Homo sapiens: one gene and its partner. The protein of the gene in region 2 interacts with the protein of the main gene of each other region in a pairwise test. Each region holds a gene or a part of one and is shown on either strand. Other genes may lie near its edges. The genes, in order: FH and CSTPP1.

Region 1 (5,901 bases), on a different chromosome or scaffold from region 2:
GCCTGCCTAATTTTTGTTTTATTTTTTGTAGAGATAGGGATCTCATTATGCTGCCCAGGCTGGTCTCAAACTCCTAGGCTCAAATGATCTTTCTGCCTCAGTTTCCCAAAGCGCAGTCTCCTAAAGTCGGTGTCCCTGACCCACCATGCCTGGCCTTGATCTGGTCCCTCTGTGGTAACAGAAACAAGGTTGGAGGGATAGGTGTGTGTTTAACACACAGGATATGTATGTCCCAATTTTCTTAACCTATTCTATCACACACACACACGTGCGTGCACACACACACACACATATACACATCCCCACTCAAAAGGGCTTGGTCACTGTGTCTCCAAATCAAAGGAAAATAAAAGATGGCTAAGGACATAGTTTGGGAATGAGATAATAAGATATAATCGGGCAATTTTTTAAACCACCAATAACCTCCAAAATTAAAACCCTTTAGAAATTGGTAACTTATGAAGTCACAAAGACAACATGCACAAATATCATAGATTCAACTATAATACAAGTCAATTAACATAGGAGAAAATTTAAGTCTGTTTTCCTTTTTATTTTATAAATGTATTTTATTTTATACTTGTTTAATCCATCTTAGACCTAGCACATCCTAGGGTTTTATATACTGATCAAATTGCTCTGCTAGAGATGCTTAAGTTCAATAGCAGTTTCCTTTCAAACTTATCCGTTTTTAAGAAATGGGAGTCTGTTTTTTTAAATTTTATACATGTTTATTTTCATTATAAATTTATGTAAATCACTTTGGACCCAGCATGTCCTTAGGTTTTACCCATTCGTCAAACTGCTCTGCTGTGAGATAGCCAAGTTCGATAGCAGTTTCCTTTAAGGTTGATCCATTTTTGTGTGCTGTCTTAGCAATCTTTGCTGCCTTGTCATACCCTGAAGAAAAAATAAAAAGACGACATATGGGTTAGCAGTGATATTTGGTTTCCTAAAGCAAAAGGTGACATAATTGTTTACTTGATATTGATGCTATATGGGCCTCTTAAATGACATTTTTTGTTTTTAAATTAGTTAACAGTGATTATCTCAATAATCATTTTTTATGTAGAACATTTACTTTCCTTAAGAAATAAACACTTAAACATACCTCACTTTCTCCAACAGATTTGTTCCTAAGTTGAAATTTTCCAGTAACTTAGATATTTTGAAGGGGAAAAAAGTAGAAATTATAGCACCACGACATAAAAATATACATCTGGGTATATTTTTCAAACAACATGTTTAACTAGAAACAATTATCTTTCTAAAGAAACATTAACAAGCTAAATGCTCCAGTCCAGCAGAAAATAAAGCACTGCACGTCTGGCAACTGTGGTGAGTGGCTCTGAGAGGGGAGAAGTCCTCGCAGTGAGGCAGGCGCAGGCAGGGCCTGGGGAGGGGTGCCTCCAGAGCTGCTTCCAATGGCTCTTCTCTATGTGGCTCTCCACTGCAATGGCTTCTATACCCTGGCCTCCTCCCAGACATTACAGGGACACAAATAGGGAGTCTGGGCAGAAATACAGACTGCACAAAAGATCACAGGCATACTGTTTACTTCAGAGTTATTTGCTTTTCAAATTAATAAAAGTGGGGGCAGGGCAGTTCTGCAAGCTGTCTTAACATATATATATATATATATATATATATATATATATATATATATATATATGTCAAGAAGAAAAAGCAGGAATGAAAATGAAACCAATGCGGGAGAAAAAAAACAAGATCAGAGAAATATGACCAAAAGGAAGAAGCTTGCTGAGGCAGTATACATCATCAATAAGATGGCATGTGTCAATATGCAATTATTAATCAGCTATAAAAGAAAGCATGGGCATAGTTACTTTTATTACTTAACTGAATTTGTGAATGCTAAATATGTTGAAAAGGGCATTTATTGATCTGAAAGGGCATTTATTGATGCCATTTACTGAAAAGGGCATCTTTCTTAAAGCAGAAATGCTTTGAGAAAGAATTTGCATGTTAAACTCTTGAGATCAATATATATCCAGTACTTTTATTTTAATAATGGCTTTAAAGTCTAAGCATTTCAGCTGTCAAGTCCAACAAGACACTATTGGCAACCAGCCTGGTACATAATGAGAATATAGGGAACCCATGATTCAGAGGGTTGTAAGGCTCACACCAAGTCAACTAGTGAGGTGGTGTTGACCCATCTCATTCTCATATGGCCTCTAACAATTCTTTTTATGTCACAATAAGTTGATTCCAATAAAGATTTGCCAATCATTCAACTTTAGGAGACACCTCTAATTTAAAGTTTTGGTAACACATTCTGAAGTAAAGATCTGATGAAAACTGCTCACACGAGCCTCTGGGTTCCCCTTTGTGTTTTTCCAGATGTAGTTGATGTACCATAATTTTAAATGGATCAAACATTATTACCAATCTCAATGCCACACCAAAAAACTGATATCATACTGGGCTCAGAGCTACCTAAAAGAGTCAAATGAGCTCTAATTTTAAAAAACTGTAATTATAGCTTGATGTGAAACCAGGAATATAAAATTTGCCTTGAAAGTTCAAGATTATAGAAGAAGCAGTAGCCATATTATGCCAAATAAGTGAATCATAACTTGTTCTATAACAGAAAGGCAGAAAATATATTAACCTCTGCTTAGCAGAAAGGAAGAATGGGTAAAAGGCTTTTAACACATCATAATATAATGCAACATAATGCCTCAAAATCTACAAAAGTGTAAACAGTTTATTTAATGGAGATCTCTATGGTCAGTCTACTACCCAAATCTGTATGTTTGATTCTACATAATGAAATATTTACAGTTCCAAAAAAGACTTATAATACAATAGCATGGTTTTAGACAAAATATTTGCATTTTCCTTCCTCCCTTTCACTATAAGCAATGAATACATAAACTTTTTCTTTTAATTGTAACTTTCCATTTCTGAATTGAATAAAACAACAAAATTAAAGCATTGTAGAGATCTAGGGAAGGTAGAAAAATGAGTTCATTCAATGTTGCTAATCAGCAGTGCCACCTAGTGACATTACCCACTGAAGGTCTTACAAATAACCTTCCCCAATGGTCTGCATAGAATATTTGGCGTCTGAATTCCATTAAAATCAAAATAAGTTTGAACTACTACTTCTCGATACATTTCAAATAAAATGAGGCATAATAGATCTAGTTTTGAAAGAACTATGACACCATACAAGTTATATAGTACCTTTCCACACAATTTCAAATATTTTGAGATTTTACTAAAACCATATTCAAAAGAAATTTGCTGTTCTCAAACACTGATCCACTTGTCTCTTAAAAATGGTTTAGCTTTTTAATTTTGCATTCAAAATGATATTATTATTCCTTAAACACTTACCTATATGAGGATTGAGAGCTGTCACCAACATTAGAGACTCATTCATCAGCTTGTTGATCCTTTCTGTATTGGCCTGGATTCCCACCACGCAGTTTTCTGTAAAGGAAACTGAAGCATCCCCCAGCAGCCTGGCTGAGTGTAACACATTTTTAATCTTTGAGTGAGTGAGAGAGAGAGAGAGAGAGAGAGAGAGAGAGAGAGAGACATTACTAAGGCAACATGTTTTTTGTCCAATAACATATTATTTTCTGGTTGACAGTAAATATACAATTCAATAAACATATAGATCTTCTACAAATTTTAAGGCACTATAACCAAGGAAACAAATGTGAAAGAAAGCATGAACATTTGAAGGCACAGAAATCTAAAAAAGGTGAAAAAGACATAAATACAAATGACTAAAACACAAAATAGCCCATAGCAAGTATTTAAAACAGAGGTCTGAAGTGTTAGAGACCATAGAGAAAGAGAAATTAACTCCAGTTGTCGGAACTGGTGAAATCCTATTTTATGGAGAGGACTTGGCCAGAGAAGGAAAAAGAATCTTCCACGCAGAAGGAAGAGGAGCAAAGATGCAGAGGTTCGAAAGTTCAGTATGAGTGTGAGGCAATTAGTAAAGTCAGGGCAAAATCTAATGATCACCAAATTTCTAGGTTTTCTATGCTTTAACGAATACTCCAGTCACTGTAAAATAACTTTTCATATAATATTAAAAAACAGTATAAAATCAATTAGTTTGTTTTGGCTTTGTTGGCAACATTTCCAATATTTATTAAGATATATCCAAATCCTAATATCCTCTGGTCTAAAACTCCGGTCTGAAAACTAGACTTCCAACAATGGACTCTAAGACATATAATCTAAGTTTTAATTTGCTACTAATGACCTTGTAATAAGGCAAATATTGATTATCTTTATTTTACATTAAAAATAAAATTTTAAAAAGATTAACAAGGCATTTATTGTTATGCACCTATAAATGCTGGGTATCTCGTGTTAACTGTTTGGAATCTGACCTGAGAGCAAAATTTTAACAGTCTGAGTTCTGCTCTGGCCTGTGTTTTTATTTACCACTAGGATATACATTCCATGAGAGCAAGAAATCTGTCTTTTCATTGCTCTATCTCTATTATGCATCCAGTACAGTGCCTGATAGAAAATGGTACTCAATAAATATTTAGTGAATATATTAAATATACTCCATATTTGTCATTTGCATATTCTTATAAAATTAAAATTAGAATTTAGAAGAGATTCCAAGAGAAAGTAAGCCCCTACTCTACTTTAGCTATAACACTTTGTCCAAATGAAGGACTCTAAATTATGGCAACAGCTCCACTATCTGCAGCTGAGGAAACTGATGAGAAATGGCGCGATGCATCTATCGATCTTCGTAAAGACGAAAGAAAAAGAACGGTTTGGGTGGACACAATGTTTTCAAGTATGTGGAAAGGTAAAGCCAGACAATGAAACGAAGTCTGACAGGGGGCAGAAGAAGAACTGGTGAAAAAATGTTCAAGAAAGCAGGGATGAAGAATGTTTCAAGGAGGGACAGTCAACATCAACTATTAGTAAGGGAAGAACTAACTGCGCAATGCCAGCTGGACTGAGGTAGTCACCAATGAATGGGAGAATAATTCAAGCGTGGAGGGGGCCATGCTGGGCTGTGGTGACTACAGCATAAATGAAAGTGAGTATGTGCTATCCTTCCAAGAAGACTGAATTTGAAGAAGAAAGCAGCAGCATGAGAAGGAGACAGGCTTGTAGGGAGGCATTTTATTTTTCTTAAACGGGCTATTAAAAAAAACATCAAATTGCTTAGGTTAAAAGTCAACTAATTTCTATTATCTAGGATTATTCTGGTAACTTAATAAATGCTTGACTTCCAACTGCTACTTATGTCACCCAACTACCCAATGTGGAATCACTAGAAGTCTTTATGAAATACAAAACCAAGATAATAAGCCTTTGGTCAAAAAACATTAAAAATCAGATTTAAAGCTTACCATCATTGGCTTGAAAACATTCAACTCAAAATGTCCATTGCTGCCTCCGACAGTGACAGCAACATGGTTCCCCATGACTTGGGCTGCAACCATGGTCATTGCTTCACACTGAGTAGGGTTCACCTTGCCTTCAAGAAAACCACCAATGACAGAGTAAAGACTAAATTTATGCAAATAATCAGGAGAATAAAGAAATCTAATTTCACTAAATAGAGTAAGATATACAATAAAGCAAGGCCCAACCATCAGTGTAATTTAATGAAACAAACCAACCAAGGAAGGTGGGATGGGTAGCCACAAAATGAATCATTCAAAGGCTAACGAGTAGCCACAACTACACATTAAATATAGTTCTCCACCTTCATGATTTTCATTCATTCTATACATATTTATGGAGCCAGGCACTCAATATACAACACTGAATAAGAAAGATGCAGGCCCTGCCCTCGCAGAACTTGGAGGCTAGGGAGAAAGAGCTGGCAATTATAAGGGGTAAATACAGAGTAGTGTATGCTGCTATCAGAACACT
Region 2 (7,248 bases):
GAATAAGAGCTCCTTGAGGGCAAGTATTGTCACTTACTCATTTGTATTTCCAGCCTGTCATGCAGTGTTGATGCATAACACGCTGAAGCAATAATACAGCCTGGAGTCAGACTTCATGGCTTCTCCTGGCATTGGCTTTTTCATTGACTGGGTGTGTGACCTACAGCAAGTTATTTAACATTCTAAATCTGTTTCATTTTCTATGCAAAGGAAATAATAGCATCTACCTAACACATAGGGTTGTTGTGAAGAAAAATGAGATAATCTACATAGAAGCACTTAATAAATGTTAATTGCTATTATTATCATTTTCACTATATTGTATTTTTCATGTCTAGAAATTCCATTTGGATCTTTTTAATATCTTCCACTAATCTCCTAATCATATTCATGTTTTCTTTACATACTTAAGCATATTTATATGATTTAAAATAACTATTTTAAGGTCCTTGTTAGTTAATTCCATCATCTCTGTCATTTCTGGATCTGTGTTTCTATTGATTAATTTTTCTCCTGGTTATGGGCTGTATTTTCCTGCTTCTTTTAATGTCTGGTAATTTTATTTTGTTTTGTTTTGTTTTTGAGACAGGGTCTTACTCTATTGCCCAGGCTTGAGTGCAGTGGTGCGATCACAGCTCACTGCAGCCTCAACTTTCCAGGCTCAAGCAATCCTCCCGCCTCAGCCATTAGAGTAGCTGGGACCACAGGTGTCACACCTGGCTAATTTTTTAAATTTTTTGTAGAGACAGGGTTTTGCTCTGTTGCCCAAGCTGGTCATGAACTCCTGGGCTCAAGTGATCCACTTGCCTTGGCCTCCCAAAGTCCTGGGATTGTAGGCATGAGCCACCATGCCTGGCCTGTCTGGTAATTTTGAATTGGATGTCAGACTTTGTGAATTTTGCATTGCTGAATGCTGGATTTTGTTAAATTCCTTTAAAGATTATTGAATTTTGTTCTTATATAGCATTAAATTACTTGCGGATCGATTTAATCCTTTTTGCTTTTAAACTGTTGAGAACTCTACCCAGTGCCCGGTGTGTTTTGAGGTCTCTTCCCTATGGCTGGTAGAAGTTTGAATTATCCTTAGCCCCTTGTATACTCCAGAAATTGTTTGGCCCACTGTTTTCTGGTGGTTCTTTTTCCAGCCCACACATATGCAGAATTTGTAGCCAAAGATTCTGGAGCTCACTGAACAACTTCTTCCTCTCTTGGATTCTGACCTGTAAATACTGGCTGCTCCAGCCTCCCTAAACCCCAGTCTCTGCCTCCTCAACTCAATAACACTGCTAAGCTCTTTGACAATCTCTCTCCCTATACTGTTGCTTGGAAACTGGCTCTCAGAATCCACAGCCCCCACTGCCTATTGCCCAATGTCTGAAAACTGTTGTTTCAGATATGCTGATTTTCTCATTGTTAGTGGCAAGAGGGCAATTCCCTTAGTAGATACTTCTTCACAGATAGAAGAGGAAGTACCTATCATTATTTTATCAAATGAAATATATATATGTATGTATGTGTATATATGTATATATTGAAAATTAAATTCTAATTGAAAATAAACTTGGAGAAGGCACTTTTGAGCCGATATCCCTAAACAGAAGTAAAGATTTACATTAAGAGAATATCAATCTTTGCCAGACTTAGAAAATTCAGATTAATATTCCTATACAGAAAAAATTAGCAAAGTGAGAAGTGTAATTTTAAAGGCTTTTAAAATTCTAATATAACTTTTGCTTCCAAGAGTCTAAAGTTGCTTAGATACCAAGAGGTTTGTTACAGTCTTCATGAGATTATCTAAAATTTGGACAAGATAATTAGCATCAGTACTCAGTCATGCAGAAAAGATATCATATCCTGTACTTGCTAAAAACTGGAATAAAATATTTTTTGTCAAAAGGGACCAGGTCCTTAGAGTTCTACAGGTGGCTTCATTTTTAGATATGTTATGCTCTTGTTTTGCTACCTCCCAGAAGAGTTACTTTCCACTTGATAATGCTAAAGTATGCACATGACATTCTAAGGAAGTTATCTGCAGAAGAATAATGCAGTAGGAGTTCCACTGAGTAGGTAGGTACCTGGCATTATAATTGATAAAATGGGGCTTAATAAATCCTTTCCTTTAGAACCTTGCCGCCAAGAGTTTTCACTAATTCCGGATTAAAATTGGAGATTGACACATTCTGGTTTAGAAAGATGTTCTGGAGTTTCCTAGAAAAAGCTGAGAATACATTAAAGCTACTTAACCAATTATTTTAGGAACACCTAGACACAGATGTTGCATTTAGTCTAAGAAATCTGAGGCTGTCTGATTAAGAAGGATAACAATAAACAGCCAGCATAAAATCTAGGTCTTGTTTATGGCACAAGGAGAAACTGGGGGAATTTGGAGCTGCTTATTCTTAGCAGCTGGATGAGTCACTGGCAGCTGCTATTAGAAAGATAAAGAAACCCACATCTGCTAAGAGTCCAAATGCTATATGAATCCCTCGTGATAGTAAATACATTCTTGAAGAGGCCCCACTTCTATATCAGGAAAAAAGTTAAGGCTATCTGAAGACTGTTTTCCATAGTTATCTCCATATGTTCTATCACAGAAACTAGCTCTAGCCATATTCTTCAACATGCAGCTGACCCTTGAACAACACAGGTTTCAGCTGTGCAGGTCCACACTTTTAGGTGGATTTTTTTCAACCAAATATGGATCGAAAATACACTATTCTAGGGATATGAAGCCCTGTATACGGAAGATTGACTTTTCACATATGAGAGTTCCACAGGACTAATGTAGGCCTTGATTATGCGTGGATTTTGGTATAAACAGGGGTCCTGGAACCAATCCCTGCATAGACTGAGAGACGACTGTACTAGGTGGTCTAAAACAAATATTTGCTGACTGAGTGAGGGACTGGGAAAGATAACCTCTGATAACATAGCACGAGCTTTACCTATATACTCACAGTTCCCAGTTTTGTTTACATAGAGACCAATGGAATAGTTTTTCTGAATTACTTAACTTAAAATTGAGTCCACATTGGTTTTTGCCTATTAGTGCATTTATTCTGTAAGGGAAATGATACGATCCTCAGTACACTAAGTACTTCTTTCATAATACTGTAATGGAGATGCATGATCTCCAGAGTTATATGTCAAAGAGGCAATGATTGAAGTAAAAATAGTAGAAATAGCACATCAGCATATTAGTAAATCTGGGTTCAATTTCTAGCTTTGCTACTAATTCACCATGAAATCTTTCTGCAAGTTACACAATTTCATTATTTACAAAATGGGCACAATAATACCCACTTTACCTATTTCTTAGGGCAGTGGAACTAATAAGATATTGGGTGGAAAAGTTTTAGAAAAGATTTAGTAACTACATATAAAAGTTTAATAGCTATATATTTAGTAGCTATTTAGAAAAGTTACAGTTTCGTAGCAGTAGCATTGATTAGAGCATGGTGGGGAATCTCATAAATTCAAAAGCAGGGAGACTACCTATTCACTGACTATAACCTCAGTGGGGAGGGGAGGGGAAGGAAGGAAGGGAGGGGAGGGAGGGAGGGGAAGGAAGGAAGGAACGAAGGAAGGAAGGCAAGAAAGAAGAAAGAAAAAGAAAAGCAAGCAAGCAAGAAATTGTCTTAAAGGTATTTATGAAAACACATAATATGAAAGTAGGAGACCAGGCATGGTAGCCCACGCCTATAACCCCAGCACTTTGGGAGGCTGAGGTGGACGAGTGGCTTGAGCCCAGGAGTTTGAGACCAGCCTGGATAACATAGCGAAACCCCAACTCTATAAAAAATAGAAAAATTAGCCACACATGGTAGTGCACAAATATATTCCCAGCTACTTGAGGTGGGAGGATCACCTGAGCTTGGAAGGTCGAGGCTGCAGTGAGCTGAGATTGTGTCATTGTATTCCTGCCTGGGTGACAGAGTAAAACCCTGTCTCCAAAAAAAAAAAAAAAAAAAAAAAAAAAAATTGAAATTTATTCTGTGGCTATTACTTGAAGGCTTTTAAAAAATATTCTTACCCAGTGGCCCAAGCCAAAAACTTGGAAATTACCACGGTCTTCTCTCTCATCTTAATGCCAAATCCAATCACCAAATCCTATGGATTCTATCTCTGAAAGTGCCCCTTCTGTCTCCATACTGCCTTAGTGTTGGGTCTAATCTCTCACTCAACTACTACCAGACTTCTATGTTCCTTGTCTCTAGTCTAGGCCATCTTCTACACTGCCTTTTGAATGATCTTTCTAGAGCTCAGATATCACCACACCACTCTCCTATCTAAAAGCCTTCAAATAAGATGGGGCATGGTGGCTCACATCTGTAATCCCAGTGCTTTGGGAGGCTGAGGCCTTGAGCCCAGGAGTTTGAGACCAGCCTGGGCCACACAGCAAAACCCCGTCTCTACAAAAAAATTTAAAATTAGCTAGGTATGGTAGGCATGTACCTGTAGTCCTAGCTAGTTGGGAGGCTGAGTTAGGAAGATCACTTGAGCCTGGAAGCTCAAGGTTATAGTGAACTATGATCATATGATCATGCCACTGCACTCCAGCCTGGGCAACAGGGTCTTTTTTTTTTTTTTTTTTTTTTTGAGACGGAGTATTGCTCTGTCACCCAGGCTGGAGTGCAGTAGCGCGATCTTGGATCACTGCAAGCTCCACCTCCTGGGTTCACACCATTCTCCTGCCTCAGCCTCCCGGGTAGCTGGGACTACAGGCACCCGCCACCACACCCGGCTAATTTTTTTGTATTTTTTAGTAGAGATGGGGTTTCACCATGTTAGCCAGGATGGTCTCGATCTCCTGACCTTGTGATCTGCCCGCCTCGGCCTCCCAAAGTGCTGAGATTACAGGCATGAGTCACCGTGCCCGGCTGCAACAGGGTCTTTAAAAAAAAAAAAGCCTTCAAATAATACCCAGAGAATAAAATTTAACTTTTTTGTTTGTTTGTTTGTTTTTTTGAAGCAGGATCTCGCTGTCACCTAGGCTAGAGTCAGTGGCATAATCATGACTCACTGTAGCCTCAACCTCCCTCAGCTCAAGTGATCCTCCCACCTCAGCCTCCCAAGTAGCTGTGAGTACAGGTATGTGCCACCACACCTGGCTAATTTTGTTTATTTTTTTGTAGAGACGAAGTCTCAGTATGTTGTCCAGGTTGGTCTCAAACTCCTGGGCTCAAGTGATCCTCCCACCTTGGGCTCCCAAAATGCTGGGATTACAGGTGTGAGCCACCACATCCAGCCCCAATTTCTTTTCTTTTCTTTTTTCTTTTTTTTTTTTTTTGAGGCAGAGTCTTGCTCTGTCGTCCAGGCTGGAGAGCAGTGGCACGATCTCGGCTCACGGCAACCTCTGTCCCCCAGGGTTCAAACGATTTTCGTTCCTCAGCCTCCTGAATAGCTGGGATTATAGGAGTGCGCCACCACACCTGGCTAATTTTTGTATTTTTAGTAGAGACGGGGTTTCACCATGTTGGACAGGCTGGTTTCAAACCCCTGACCTCAAGTGATCCACCTGCCTTGGCATCCCAAAGTGCTGGGATTACAGGCTGAGCCACTGTGCCTGGCCCAATTTCTTTTTTATGGCTAAAAAATGATCTTTCAGCAGCTCCATTATTCCTTTACAGTCTCATCTCCCCTAACCTCCTTCATAAACTCCACACAAACTCTAGACATCCTGATCTGTTATGTAAGTATTCTAGGTTCTTTTGTGCTTCAGCATATGTTCTACCTAGGATGCCCTTCTCTCCTTTATCCATGTGAATGATTCCTACTCTTCCTTCCCAGCTTAGATCAAACAGTCAGTTCTAAGGAGAACCTTCTCTACTCCACTTTTCTCTCCCTTCTCTAACAACAGTATCCCCATCCCACCCCCATTCAGGAGTTTCTTTCTTCATATTCACATTATTCCTTGTATTTACTGCATGGCATTTTAATATCTGCCAAGAGCAAGGGCTGTGAAGTCAGACTGCCTGGGTATAAATCTGGGCCCAGAATTTACTATGTAACCTTGCCAAGTTACTTAACCTCTCTGATCCTCAGTTTCATTAGTTACAAAATGGGGATTATGGTATCTACCACAGAGAGCCCTTGTAAAGATAAATGAGTTACTACATGTAAAGAGCTACACTTGGCTCTTAATAGGTACCATTAGTGATGGTAGTGGTAATAGTAATATCTTTGACATAAACCAGACAACTCCTCAAAAGTGAGGTATTCTAAATGCCTTGAATAGCATGCATTCAAACAATATTTATAGGAACAAAAGAAAAAGTTTGAAAGAGAAAGAGAGGAAAAGAGAGAGAGAAAGAAAGAGAGAGAGAGGAAGGAAGGAAGGAAGAAAGGAAGGAAGGAAGGAAGGAAGGAAAAAGAATTTGGGAAGACTTACCGCCATTTTTGCCCACAGTTCGGAAGCATCTCCAGAAGGCCCGTAAAAATGATACCCTATTGTGGGGGGTGGCTTGGACGAAGCTGAATTCTCGAAAGAGAATGTGTGTTCCCTGGCATACACTGTTAAAACTGCAAAGAGAAAAGTCAAGAAGTCATTGTTAGATGGAATCCAGAAGGCTGGAATCAGAATGAAAAATTGAGACCAGAGAGAACCACTGCCAAAAACGGGGAATTTTTCTCCCCAACAAAACTCTGAACTCTAGATTAGACCTAGTCCTTCTATGGGGAAGTCTCTTCATATAACCATACCTTTCCGAAAACTCTTGGAGGCCAGTTCCTCTGAGTGCTTCCCACCTTCCACAGGTACACACAGAGGACATCTGAATCAGTCATTCGAGCAACGCATATGGAGGAAAGCCTTTTAGCCTCTAACTGGATGACACTGGCACTCATATCTTTCTTTTTGGAGAATACTTTTCCCTCTACTGCATTTGGAATTAGGTTTCCTTAAAGATATTATTTCTGGGCTGGGCGCAGTGGGTCACGCCTGTAATCCCAGCACTTTGGGAGGCCAAGGCGGGTGGATCACTTGAGGTCAGGAGTTGGAGACCAGCCTGGCCAACATGGTGAAACCCTGTCTCTACTAAAAATACAAAAATTAGCTGGGCATGGTGGCGTGCACCAGTCATTCCAGCTACTCGGGAGGCTGAGGCAGGAGAATCACTTGAACCTGGGAGGTGGAGGTTGCAGTGAGCCGAGATCATGCCACTGCACTCCAGCCTGATCAACAGAGTGAGACTCAGTCTCAAAAAAAAAAAAAAAAAAGAAAAAAGATATTATTTCTGTACTCTCCCT

Evidence for each region.
Region 1: the proteins of CSTPP1 (region 2) and FH interact in binary tests that used the Homo sapiens proteins (3 or more experiments, as listed by UniProt).

What each region holds. Positions count from the first base shown.
Region 1 is NC_000001.11:241,497,071-241,502,971, forward strand, and holds the end of FH (fumarate hydratase, mitochondrial), read right to left. Parts: intron 5,501-5,901; coding exon 5,373-5,500; intron 3,521-5,372; coding exon 3,367-3,520; intron 901-3,366; coding exon 758-900; 3' UTR 533-757; downstream 1-532. UniProt on the Homo sapiens protein: Catalyzes the reversible stereospecific interconversion of fumarate to L-malate. Experiments in other species have demonstrated that specific isoforms of this protein act in defined pathways and favor one direction over the other.
Region 2 is NC_000011.10:47,051,662-47,058,909, reverse strand, and holds part of CSTPP1 (centriolar satellite-associated tubulin polyglutamylase complex regulator 1), read right to left. Parts: intron 6,523-7,248; coding exon 6,392-6,522; intron 1-6,391. UniProt on the Homo sapiens protein: Regulator of the tubulin polyglutamylase complex (TPGC) that controls cytoskeletal organization, nuclear shape, and cilium disassembly by balancing microtubule and actin assembly.